Linked DNA regions of Homo sapiens: regions 1 and 3 are each reported to be linked to region 2. Evidence: microRNA targets listed by miRTarBase, many of them from high-throughput screens and not tested one by one. Region 2 holds a microRNA gene; each other region holds the end of a gene's coding sequence.
Evidence for each region. Region 2 holds the annotated microRNA hsa-miR-6887-5p (UGGGGGGACAGAUGGAGAGGACA, at 1,544-1,566, opposite strand). A microRNA usually pairs through its seed, bases 2 to 8, with sites in the 3' UTR of a target mRNA and lowers its output. Matches are read on the target gene's strand: a 7mer-m8 pairs with bases 2 to 8, a 7mer-A1 pairs with bases 2 to 7 and ends in A, and an 8mer does both.

Region 1: the mRNA of C1D is a reported target of hsa-miR-6887-5p. Seed matches in the 3' UTR shown: 7mer-m8 at 3,428-3,434.
Region 3: the mRNA of NRBP1 is a reported target of hsa-miR-6887-5p. Seed matches in the 3' UTR shown: 8mer at 531-538.

What each region holds. Positions count from the first base shown.
Region 1 is chr2:68,039,415-68,043,414 of GRCh38, forward strand. It overlaps C1D (C1D nuclear receptor corepressor), which reads right to left. Exons shown (of 5, transcript NM_173177.3): 5 at 1,716-3,639. The coding sequence ends at 3,475. Among named protein-coding and RNA genes, the nearest start is that of C1D, 22 kb to the right of the region's middle.
Region 2 is chr19:35,120,123-35,124,270 of GRCh38, reverse strand. MIR6887 (microRNA 6887) reads right to left here and starts at 1,571; the gene lies at 1,507-1,571. It overlaps FXYD3 (FXYD domain containing ion transport regulator 3), which reads right to left. Exons shown (of 9, transcript NM_005971.4): 4 at 3,161-3,193; 5 at 3,026-3,049; 6 at 1,432-1,506; 7 at 1,317-1,353; 8 at 963-1,000; 9 at 1-830. The coding sequence ends at 814. RefSeq lists enhancers at 237-1,124, 1,125-2,014.
Region 3 is chr2:27,441,352-27,445,351 of GRCh38, forward strand. It overlaps NRBP1 (nuclear receptor binding protein 1), which reads left to right. Exons shown (of 18, transcript NM_013392.4): 17 at 216-271; 18 at 357-908. The coding sequence ends at 461. KRTCAP3 (keratinocyte associated protein 3) reads left to right here and starts at 1,030. Exons shown (of 7, transcript NM_173853.4): 1 at 1,030-1,089; 2 at 1,228-1,412; 3 at 1,491-1,550; 4 at 1,723-1,929; 5 at 2,047-2,181; 6 at 2,598-2,710; 7 at 2,835-2,946. The coding sequence starts at 1,062. The coding sequence ends at 2,705. IFT172 (intraflagellar transport 172) reads right to left here. Exons shown (of 48, transcript NM_015662.3): 46 at 3,945-4,000; 47 at 3,663-3,754; 48 at 3,026-3,170. The coding sequence ends at 3,081. RefSeq lists an enhancer at 1,165-1,707.

The DNA.
Region 1 (4,000 bases), not on the chromosome of region 2:
TATCACTTTACAAAACTGACATCTTGCATACAGTTATTCTGCTATGATAGATTTGCTAAACTTCAAGGCTAATTGTGGGGAGAGGGAGTAAAAACCAGCATCTCGTTTCAACCTTTTAAGAACAGATGACTAACACAGAGCTGGTGGCTTTAGGTTTCTAGCTGGGCAGGGAGTTGGGAGATATAAAGTTAAAAATTAAACCTCAATTGCCAATAGCTATCACTATAGCTCTCTCTTTTCTGAACACTTTACTAATCTTTCTGGCTGTGTTAAAAATTATGCCATAATCTCAGACTTCTTGAGGGAATAATAAAAAGTTATGCCATAAATAAGCACTTTAAAAAGGCACATCAAGTCAGAGGGTGGCTATTCTAAAGAGTAGTCTATGGCTGTACACCCACTTTGATAGGAAAATGAATATGCAAACCAAAAAACATTCAAATCATTTTCTTGAAAGCCCGCTAACAGGTAATATAATAGCAAATTATTCAAATGAAACAAATCTACAGAATTCCATTATAAAATCCTGTATACTTTCTGCCAACATAGTTGTTAATGACAACTATAAAATGCTAATATATGAACAAAATATGGCTTGTATTTCCAAAACTGGAGAGTTTTAGATCAGAATATAGGGAAAGATAGATGTTTATATTTGTAAATTATGTTCACGTCACATTGATATAAAATACGTTGCTACCAAGATCATTCAGGAAAAGAGCCACTGAATTTATCTGAGCAGGTTTTCTAACTATGCTATGAAGGGAGAAAATGAGACATCAGTGCTTTTTCTTCCCTTTAGATACCAAATTTAGCTATTACATGAGGCTGAGTCACTGTTCACATCTTTCTTAGTTAATGTCACTTTGCAAAGCCAGAATTTCTGGTAACTTATTGAATAAAATTATAATTTAACTGTATGATAAACTGAGTGATTCCTAAAGTATCTTTTTCTCCAGTGACCTACTTAAGAAAAAAGTATTTACATTCAATACGCTGTCCATTTTTGAAGTCTTTCCTACACTTCTGGTCAATTTTAAATACCTTATTTAGAAATAATGCCAATCCATTTCTAATTGCTAAGTAGAAGGATTTTTTAATCTACAGGGTATCTTAAAACTAATCAACCTGACATAACTTCCTAATTCCAGGAATGTAACATAATTCAAGCTTCAATTTTTCACTCAACATATTCTGTTTTACTAAAAGGATTTCCCACCTTACAACTATGAACAAGAAAAAATTTGTACTTAAAATAATATTAAAATGCAAGATCTCATTATTTAGTACAAGATTAATAGACTATAATTCTAATCTTAAAAATATCTATAGATGCAACTTCTCCAACTTGTTAATTCCCAAAGAGATTAATAAAAGATGTAATTAACATCTAAACTTAGAGCAGACTATCATGTGGAACAAACTATTTTAACAAGAACTGCACCATAGTCAAATAGATCAACCACACACATCACCCTTTATGGTTCTGAATAAGGTTAATGAGCACAATTTGTCATAAATTTTCCCATAACTCTGAGAAACTGAATTGAATAAAAAGACTATTTTTTTCTTAACACCTTATAAAGATAGGATAAAGGCCGTAGTTATCGTCTTTGGAACGTTGCACCTAGCACTGTATCTGGCAATATAAATGTCATTAAGTATATTTGTCAAAAGAATAAACAAACAACAAGCAAATAAGCAACCCAATGCACTACAGCCATTCAGCTCCTTATTACGTGCTAAGTATTTAAAATTATACATAATAAAATGGAATATACTCAAACTTTTATTTCTACCTAATAATGAAAGAATTACTCACTTAAAAGTTACACAATTTAACAGAACGTAGAGGTGCACTTTCATAAACCAATAACTTAGCTAAAACCAATAATGATTTTCTGCAATTGTATAACATTTTTCATTTAAGCTGTTTTTCTTTTATGAAATTAGAAAATATACAGAAATCCAAATAAATTTCTTTGCAATAAATAACACAAAGACAGGTACACTACACTTGATCTTAACAGTAACACATTTCTCTCATGAAGAGGTTATTTTTAAAAATAGCTAGAAATTTGGAGACAAAGGCAAAAAAAGGAGTAAAATAACTATAAATGTTCACTAATGTTCTTCCACTTCAAAAACTGACATCAGAGACAGAAAAGACCTTCTGCGTCTATCAGTGACTTCCTCTTCATGTGTCATAGAAAGAGTTCAACATGCTTTACAAAATCCATTACATTTTAAGACCATTTCCAATATCTGCTATCATAAATCAAGAAATCCATTTATTCAAGGTTACTTATGGAGAATTAATCACACAGAAAATTTTAACAACTCCTTTTTCAAAAATTAAAGTACTTTACTATACTTGGCATTCCTACACATAATGATATGGATTCAAACACTGAAAGCATTAAGGGCATATAATTAAAATTCATGGGCTTAGACATTTAAAAAAAGGTTTACTATGTAGTACTCTCTGTAACTAATATTCCAGAAAAATAAACCACAATACAAACACAGTGTAATCTCCTTTGGACTTCTCATCTGCTTAAGTGGCATTAGGTAACTTAAGAAGTTGTTCCAAAACACTTGTATGTACTTGATACAGCCTCAAAAACATGAAATAAAAAAAATCTGAAAAAAAATGAGATGAAAAGAACTGTGGACACCATGCATCAGGAACAAAAACTCAAGAATTTCTCTATTTGTGATGACTTCTAAAACCTATCTTCCTAATTTGGAAGGCAAATTTACTCAAAAGATAAAAATACACAGGTCAGTTATACAACATTTTCAGCCTTTATTGAGAGTACAGTCATCATGCCAAAATTCATCCATCAACATACAACCTTATTTCCCATCTAAAGTTAATGAGAATGTATTTTATTTTAAATGGGACATAGAGGCAACATGCCAAGAATTAAAGTACAACCATAAAGTTTTAGTTTCACACTTTGAATATCAACAAAGCAGTAATTCCTAAAATCATGAAAACATGATAAAGTATCTATACAGAAAAAAATGAACATTTAAGTCATTTCACGCTTTCTTAATATCATATAGTGAAAACAGATGTACCTATAATTTCAGCCTACAGATAGCATACTTCATAAGGTCATTATTCATTTAAAATAGTACAAATGTTTACAAAGAACATTTCACTTAAATTTCACAGCTGCTTATAAAATGGTACTTGCAAGACTGACCTATATAAAGAAATAAGAGTCTCATCAAGAGATGGTAAATTATAAATATATAATATATCACAATGTTAAAATCCTCAGTGCTAATCAATAAAGATAATGATCTTTGGAGAGGAAAGTATTTAGCTTTACATATTTACTGTGAATTTACATATTAATAAGAAACACATTTAAACCTTGCCCTGCCACAGAATTATTTTGCGGGGGGGGGGGGGGGGGGGAAGATGTACTTTTTGAATATGTGTACATCAAAACCAAAAAGTTAACTTTTACTTTTTCCTTTATTGGCAACTTTTGATGCATTTTTCGATTTTGGTTCCCAGAGGGCATTTTTTACAAATCTTGAAGCTGCACCTCTGTCCAGCTTGCCAGCCTTTTTCTTGTCTGTTATTTCCTTGACTCTGTTCATATATACTCTGATTCTTTCCTTAAAGATAAAAAACAAAGGCAATAGATTTACTAAGCTATTCGCCACCACTGAATTTTATTATACTGTACACCTTGGTTAAATTCAACATATATGTATTTATTGCCTATTAAAGTGCATGGTGCTAGGAAATGCAAATGAATAGGATAAATACGCTCCCTGCTTGCCTGGAGTTCATAGTCGGAGGGTGGGGAAAGACAGATGTTAAAAAGTCATTTCAGAAGTCTTCTGTTTCCAAAGAGTTAGAATCACACTAAGACATTACTCCAGAAATAAACATCGAATTGAAAGTTTCTAGGTGGTTATACATTTTTGAAAAACACCATTAACATAAATCTACATATTAACTGTTTTGTATCTA
Region 2 (4,148 bases):
GACATTGGAGGAGATATTTTTGGGTGTTTTGAGTTTTAGGCGTGTTGTGGGGTAGTTCATGAGAACATTTCGCATGCCTTATTAGGTATTGGGGAGTCTCAAGGGACTTTGAGGCTTGTTGGAAGTTCTCACACTATGTGGTCATTGTATGTTATTAAGGGTAGCATAGGGAATTATTTAACGGGCTTGCAGGGACATTTGGGTATTTGGAAAGATCTTGTAATAAAGTGAGGTCTCGGGGTAAGTGAGAGGGTCACAGGGGCTTACTATTATAAACTGTCTGAACACTTCCATCATAGCGGGACGATCCTATGTCCCAGTTTTCCTGGAATGGTCCAGGGTCCACTGGAATGTTCCAGTGTTCCATCTGGTTAGAGCTCTCTTTCATTCCTTTTGGCTACTAGTAAATCCCAAATTGCATATGAGGTTCCCATGGCTGAGGAGGCAGAGGGCGGGCCTGTGCCATGTCCCAAGCCACAAGGGAACAGGCCTGTGGGCTTTTCCCAACAAGCAGGCTCAGTGCCAGCCTCTGTGTCAGCCTCCAGGGCACGCCAACCTTCTCATGGTGCCCCAAGCCCCACCCCAATGCACACATAGGAAGTCTCCAGGCTGCTTGGGCAGAGGCACAATCATTTTAGATTAAAAAAAATTGAACAAAGAGACCCTCTTGCGAGAGGTGAGATGAGGCCCTGCCATGCAAAGGAGTCCCAGCAGAGGAGGAAGAATTCCATCCTGGAGTTCAAGTTTCTGTGCAGAGACAGGACCTGGGGACAGAGAACGGTCCTCCACCCAATTTCAGCTGGTCTGTCCTCATCAGCTTTGGGCTGAGCCTGCGGGAAGTGATGGGGTCCGTTTGTGAGGGTGGATTGAGTTCTTTTCTTTCCAGTGTGCAAACACACACATACACACACACACACACACCACTTCCGTGTTCCCCTGAGCCCCATGCTGCCCCATCTTACCTGGGGTGATGAGAGGTGGAGTCTCCCCTGGATGGTGACTAAGGAGACAAAAGTGGTGAGATTGGTGTCCGCCCCCATTTGCCCTCTCCCTCCGGATAGAGGGTTCTTAGCCTGCCCAGACATGTCTTCCTGGCTGCCTTTCCATTTGGGGGGTTGTGCAATCCCAGGGGCCAAAGCATTTCAGGATTTGGGGCCCCCTGGGGATTACCAGCTAGAAACAATAAACCTGGAAATCTTAGCGGCAGGAACTCTAAAGGGCAGAGCCCCGAGGCCTCTCCTGCTGGGAGAGTTAGCCCTTTCACCCTGAAAAGCGTCCAGTCAGCCTGAGGCGGGCATGCCGGAACAGTATCTTACCCGGACTTCTGGCCAAACTTGCATTTGCATTTTGCACCTGTTGGGGAGAGCTGAGTGGTCAGGGGAGGGGAGCCCCAGCCCCGGCCCGCCTGCTCCCCCGAGCTCCTCCACTCACTCATGACGATGATGATGCCCATGGCGCACAGAACCCCAGCGCAGATGAGCCCGCCAACCTGGAGGCTGTGCCAGTCTAGGAGGAAAGTGGAGGGGACCTCAGTGCCAGCCTGTGTCCTCTCCATCTGTCCCCCCATTCTCTTGACAAATATATATGGAGCACCTAGGATGCACAGGGTGCTGGGGACACCGCCATAAGAAAACAGACAAAATCCCAGGTGCTCACATTCTGGTTCACACACCAGCAAACACGATCTGTCGTGCAGGGTCAGGCAGAGATAAGTGGTTTGAAGAAAAATAAGTGGGGTGGGAGATGGAAAGTCAGAGGGCGGGCTGGGCATAGTGGCTGACACCTATTAGGTTGGAGCAAAAGTGATTGCGTTTTTGGCTAGACATGGTGGCTCACGCCTGATATCCCAGCACTTTGGGAGGCCAAGGTGGGCGGATCACCTGAGGTCAGGAGTTCCAGACCAGCCTGGCCAACATGGTGAAACCCCGTCTTTACTAAAAATACAAAAATTAGCCAGGCATGGTGGTAGGCGCCTGTAATCCCAGCTACTCAGCAGGCTGAGGCTGGAGAATCATTTGAACCCGGGAGGCAGAGGTTGCAGTGAGCCAAGATTGCACCATTGCACTCCAGCCAGTCACACTCTGGGTGAAAGAGCAAAATTCTGCCTCAAAAAAAAAAAATTGCATTTTTGCCATTAAAAGCAGTTGCAAAAACCACAATTACTTTTGAACCAACCTAATATAATCCCAGTGCTTTGGGACTTCAGGAGTTCAGGAGTTCTAGACCAGCTTGAGCAACATAGTGAGAACCCATCTCTACAAAGTATACAAAAATTAGCCAGGCATGGTGGTGTATGCCTGCAGTCCCAGCTATTCAGGAGGCTGAGGCAGGAGGATCGCTTGAGACCAGGAGTTTGAGGCTGCAGTGAGCTATGATTACACCACAGCACTCCAGCTTGGGCAACAGTGTGAGACGCTGTCTCTAAAACAAAAAAAAAGTCAGATGGCAGCTCTTTTAGAGGGAGTTGTCAGGGAAGGCCTCTCAGGGGGCTGCATTTGAGCAGAGGGAAGGGAGGGAGCCATGTGGTTCTGTGGAAGGAAGTGTTCCAGGCAGAGGAACCAGCAGGTGCAGAGGTCTGAGGCTGGCAGTATGTCTGCTGTGTCTGAGAGGCTTGGAGCAGAAGGAATGAGGAGCGTGGAGAGGTGAGGGCAGAGCGGGGAGTAGGGAGCAGGTCATTGGAACCTGGAGGCCAGATGAGGGTTTTGATCCAATAGCTCACCACCTCCAGGAAGTTTTCTCAAGTCAACACTTCTCCCAGCAGTTGATCTGAACCAACCAATGGCTTCTTGCAAACTGTCCTCACCTCCTGCGTGTGTCTATCTTGCTGGAATAGAACCTTCCCAAAGGCCAGGTTGCTGCCTCTAGTTCCTTTAATCCACTGTGTGGCATATTCAGTAACCCCATCCTAGTCCCTTCGTATCTTTGTCCTGTGATGCTCACGTCAGGCCCCAACCCTGTATGGGAACCCTTGGCACCAAGCAGTATGTGGGGTTGTGGGGAGGGGAAAGGGGGCACGGGCTCTCACCATAGTAGAAAGGACTGTTTTTATCTGCAAGGAAAGAAAAAAGATCATGAATCCAGGATTACAGCCAGGATGCAGGCCTTCCCCACCCAGGGGAGAATTTGGGGGTGTGACGGGTGAGAGTCCAGTCTGACTCACCTTCTAGGTCATTGGCGTCCAGGACAGGAAAGCCTAGTGGGAGAAGAGGGGAAGGAGGGGAGATGGTGATGCCGGCCTCAGCCAAGCCTTTGGGCAGGGCCTGGGGAGTTTCAGGGGCCTTGGGAAAGGGTCTCCTGCGGGACAGGGGTCCTGTCACTGAGCAGCCACCTCATCCCCTCATATCCCAACGAGGAAATGTGGACTCGCCCACTCAGCCCCACACCTCCGAGTCACGCCAGCATTCTGCCACCTGAAATGGGTTCTAATCTAGGAGGTTTTTAGCCACTATTTGGTCTCATGTTTCCAGACACGTGGTTAATCCATGCCTCCTGCAGCAGCGGGGGACTTTTCTGGTCAAGACGACAGATGGTTTCAGTTCCCAGATTCCTGTTTCCCCAAGTCCAATCATGCTCAAAGCCCATCCTCCCGCTTCCACCATGTCCACACCCACCTGGTCTGGTGTTTGCACATCATTGAAAATGACTCACTATTATACACTTAAATAGACTTTATTGAAAATGTAATTTTAGATCACTACCCTGCAGGGAATACTGGTCTTGCCCTATGTAATGGACAAAAAGTGTGCCTGTAATCCCAGAGCTTTGGGAGGCTGACGTGGAAGGATCTCTTGAGCCTGGGAGGTCAAGGCTGCAGTGAAAAAGTAAAAAGCGGGCTGGGCACAGTGGCTTAGGCCTGTAATCCCAAAACTTTGGAAGGCCGAGGCAGGAGGATCACTTGAGGTCAGGAGTTCGAGACCAGCCTGGCCAATATGGTGAAACCTTGTCTCTTCTAAAAATACAAAAGTTAGCCAGGCATGGCAGCACACGCCTGTAATGCCAGCTACTTGGGAGGCTGAGGCAGGAGAGTCGCTTGAACCTGGGAGGTGGAGGTTGCAGTGAGCCGAGATCATGCCACTGCACTCCAGCCTGGGCAACAGAGCGAGACTCTGTCTCCGAAAAAAAAAAAAGAAAAGAAAAAAGGGAAAAGT
Region 3 (4,000 bases), not on the chromosome of region 2:
GAGGATGGAGAGTCTATGAGCCTTATCTTTTAGGGACATATTCAGGGGTGGGGGAGGTGACAAGGCAGTAACACATTGACTCACATAGAATGACTATCTTAGACCCTAAAGCAGTGGGTGGATCTGACTGACAGTTTAGCCCTAGTGGGGCTGTCTGAAGGGCCCCAGGTCCCTCAGTCCCGTACTGTACTCACCCCCTCCTGTTTCTTTGTCAGATGAGAATATCCCCGAGTTGGCGGCTGAGCTGGTGCAGCTGGGCTTCATTAGTGAGGTGAGGTTTCTGCCTTCATCTGCCCTGGCTGCCCCCATGCCTTCTCTTCTCTCAGCCCCCATCTTACTGAGCTCTTCTCCCCCAGGCTGACCAGAGCCGGTTGACTTCTCTGCTAGAAGAGACCTTGAACAAGTTCAATTTTGCCAGGAACAGTACCCTCAACTCAGCCGCTGTCACCGTCTCCTCTTAGAGCTCACTCGGGCCAGGCCCTGATCTGCGCTGTGGCTGTCCCTGGACGTGCTGCAGCCCTCCTGTCCCTTCCCCCCAGTCAGTATTACCCTGTGAAGCCCCTTCCCTCCTTTATTATTCAGGAGGGCTGGGGGGGCTCCCTGGTTCTGAGCATCATCCTTTCCCCTCCCCTCTCTTCCTCCCCTCTGCACTTTGTTTACTTGTTTTGCACAGACGTGGGCCTGGGCCTTCTCAGCAGCCGCCTTCTAGTTGGGGGCTAGTCGCTGATCTGCCGGCTCCCGCCCAGCCTGTGTGGAAAGGAGGCCCACGGGCACTAGGGGAGCCGAATTCTACAATCCCGCTGGGGCGGCCGGGGCGGGAGAGAAAGGTGGTGCTGCAGTGGTGGCCCTGGGGGGCCATTCGATTCGCCTCAGTTGCTGCTGTAATAAAAGTCTACTTTTTGCTAAAAGCGTCGTGTGTTCGCGCCTTTCCCGCCAGGGGGAGCGGGCCCGGGGCGGAGGCGGGGCCCAGGTGGGAGGGGGACCCGGGACGGAGGCGGGGCCCAGGTTGGGGCGGGGCCGGGCCCAGGTACAGCGGCCCTGCGGCTGGCGCGGCGGACGGGATGAGGCGCTGCAGTCTCTGCGCTTTCGGTAACTTCCGGGCCCTGGCGTCTCGTCTCCTTACCCTGGGGCTACCCTTGCCCCGTCCTACTGCCCGCGGTTAACCCGCCGCGAGCCGCCTCTCCCCTCCCCGCCCGACTCAACCCTGCCCTCCCCCGTGCTTTGCAGACGCCGCCCGGGGGCCCAGGCGGCTGATGCGTGTGGGCCTCGCGCTGATCTTGGTGGGCCACGTGAACCTGCTGCTGGGGGCCGTGCTGCATGGCACCGTCCTGCGGCACGTGGCCAATCCCCGCGGCGCTGTCACGCCGGAGTACACCGTAGCCAATGTCATCTCTGTCGGCTCGGGGCTGCTGGTGAGCGCGGCAGGCGACCCGGGCGGGGGCCGGGCTCCCGGAGAGCCCAGCAGGCCAAAGGCTTTGTGTCTTCCACAGAGCGTTTCCGTGGGACTTGTGGCCCTCCTGGCGTCCAGGAACCTTCTTCGCCCTCCACTGGTGAGAGGGACTTCCCTGGAGCTTTTAACGAGTAGGCTTGAGTCAGGGAAATGGGGGCTGACTGAGCTTGGTCTTTCAATAGATTGGAGGAGCCTCAGAGAAACTGGGTGTCTAGTCACTGGGAGAGTTAGCCAGGCCCAGGCTGCTCACCCTGATCTCCTGTCCCTGCCAGCACTGGGTCCTGCTGGCACTAGCTCTGGTGAACCTGCTCTTGTCCGTTGCCTGCTCCCTGGGCCTCCTTCTTGCTGTGTCACTCACTGTGGCCAACGGTGGCCGCCGCCTTATTGCTGACTGCCACCCAGGACTGCTGGATCCTCTGGTACCACTGGATGAGGGGCCGGGACATACTGACTGCCCCTTTGACCCCACAAGAATCTATGTGAGCACATTCTCTTCCTTCTTGTGGTCTACAAAGCCTTGGTCCTGCCCTTTTAATTTCCCCTATTTGCTGCACTTGCCCTACTCCCTCCTACTCCCCATCCTTCTTGCTTTTCAGGATACAGCCTTGGCTCTCTGGATCCCTTCTTTGCTCATGTCTGCAGGGGAGGCTGCTCTATCTGGTTACTGCTGTGTGGCTGCACTCACTCTACGTGGAGTTGGGCCCTGCAGGAAGGACGGACTTCAGGGGCAGGTAAGGAAGGCAAACAGGAAGGGTTCATTCCACAGAGACTGGCTGTGTTGAAAAGATGCTGACCGGCCGGGTGCGGAGGCTCACACCTGTAATCCCAGCACTTTGGGAGGCTGAGGCAGGCGGATCACTTGAGGTCAGGAGTTTGAGACCAGCTTGGACAACATGGTGAAACCTCGTCTCTACTAAAAATACAAAAAATTAGGTGGGGTGGTGGGCGCCTGTAATCCCAGCTACTTGGAAGGCTGAGGCAGGAGAATCGCTTGAACCCGGAAGGCGGAGGTTGCAGTGAACCGAGATCACGCCACTGCACTCCAGCCTGGGCAACAGAGTGAGGCTCCGTCACAAAAAACAAAACAAAAAAAAGATGCTGACCTATCATTCAGGGCGAGGGTGTCTAACTCTATCTTCTTCTGCAGCTAGAGGAAATGACAGAGCTTGAATCTCCTAAATGTAAAAGGCAGGAAAATGAGCAGCTACTGGATCAAAATCAAGAAATCCGGGCATCACAGAGAAGTTGGGTTTAGGACAGGTAATGGGCCTTGAAGGTGGTGGCCCGGGTAAGAGCGGGGACAAGGAAGTGCTCTTAGAACTGGGTCTAGGTCTTGCCATGCTGCTTTCCCCTCTGACCTGGGTTGGTTCTCCCCTCTGTCCAGCAGGTGCTGTTCCGAGACTCAGTCCTAAAGGGTTTTTTTTCCCACTAAGCAAGGGGCCCTGACCTCGGGATGAGATAACAAATTGTAATAAAGTAACTTCTCTTTTCTTCTACTTGATTATGATTCCTTTTGGGGAAAAGGCACTGTGTGGTGTTGGGAATGACTTTGATCAAAGAATACAGTGGTCTCAATTATTTATAAAACTTTAATGAGGGAGAGGCCCTAACTCTTCCTCAGCTCTACCAACTACTGAAAGGAAAAGCTGGTGCTGGGGAGCCCTCCACACCACTGACTGATGAATTTCAGCACGTCCTGGCACACTGGGCTGTGGGAGGTCTGTGAGCAAATGGAAGAACATGAGAGGAACTTGTTAATGCTGGAAATACAAAATCAGCTCCATCGCAGGCTTCAGGGTCTGCATCTGCCTTCCTGTAATCCCACCCATCTTTCTAGTGTGTATGTGGGTTTTTTGTTTGTTTTGAGACAAAGTCTTGCTTTGTCGCCCAGGCTGGAGTGCAGTGGCACAATCTCAGCTCACTGCAACCTCTGCCTCTCGGGTTTAAGCGATTCTCCTGCCTCAGCCTCCTGAGTAGCTGGGATTACAGGTGCACGCCACCAGACCCGGCTAACTTTTGTATTTTTAGTAGAGACGAGGTTTTAACCATGTTGGCCAGGCTGGTCTCAAACTCCTGACCTCAGGTGATCCGCCCACCTTGGCCTCCCAAAGTGCTGGGATTAAAGGTATGAGCCACTGCACCCAGACTTGTTTTTTTTTCTTTTTTTAGTGCTGCCCTCTCTGCCTTCATTCTCCAAGTCCTCCTCTCTAACCTTGATGGCCATAAGGAATTTATTCCAGTTGTCCTTGTTAGCAGCCTTCCCTGGCCGCTTAAATTCAATTTTGTTCCTCAGAATGGGGTATCCTGTGGAGGAAGAAAAAATGATGAACTGGGGTTTGAGAGAGATTGAGGAGGGAAAAATGAGGAGCAGCCTGGGGGGTAGAAAGCACAGTCCTGTCTTTTGTACCCTTTACTGAATCCTAGTAAAATTAAGTTTATTGATCCTGCTGCTTTCTACCCACCACAGGATCTGGGGTGCTGTAGGCTTCTATACCTGTAATAAGGCAGGGCAGGGCTCGAACACCAGTGCTCGCTGCCACTAGGGAGGCC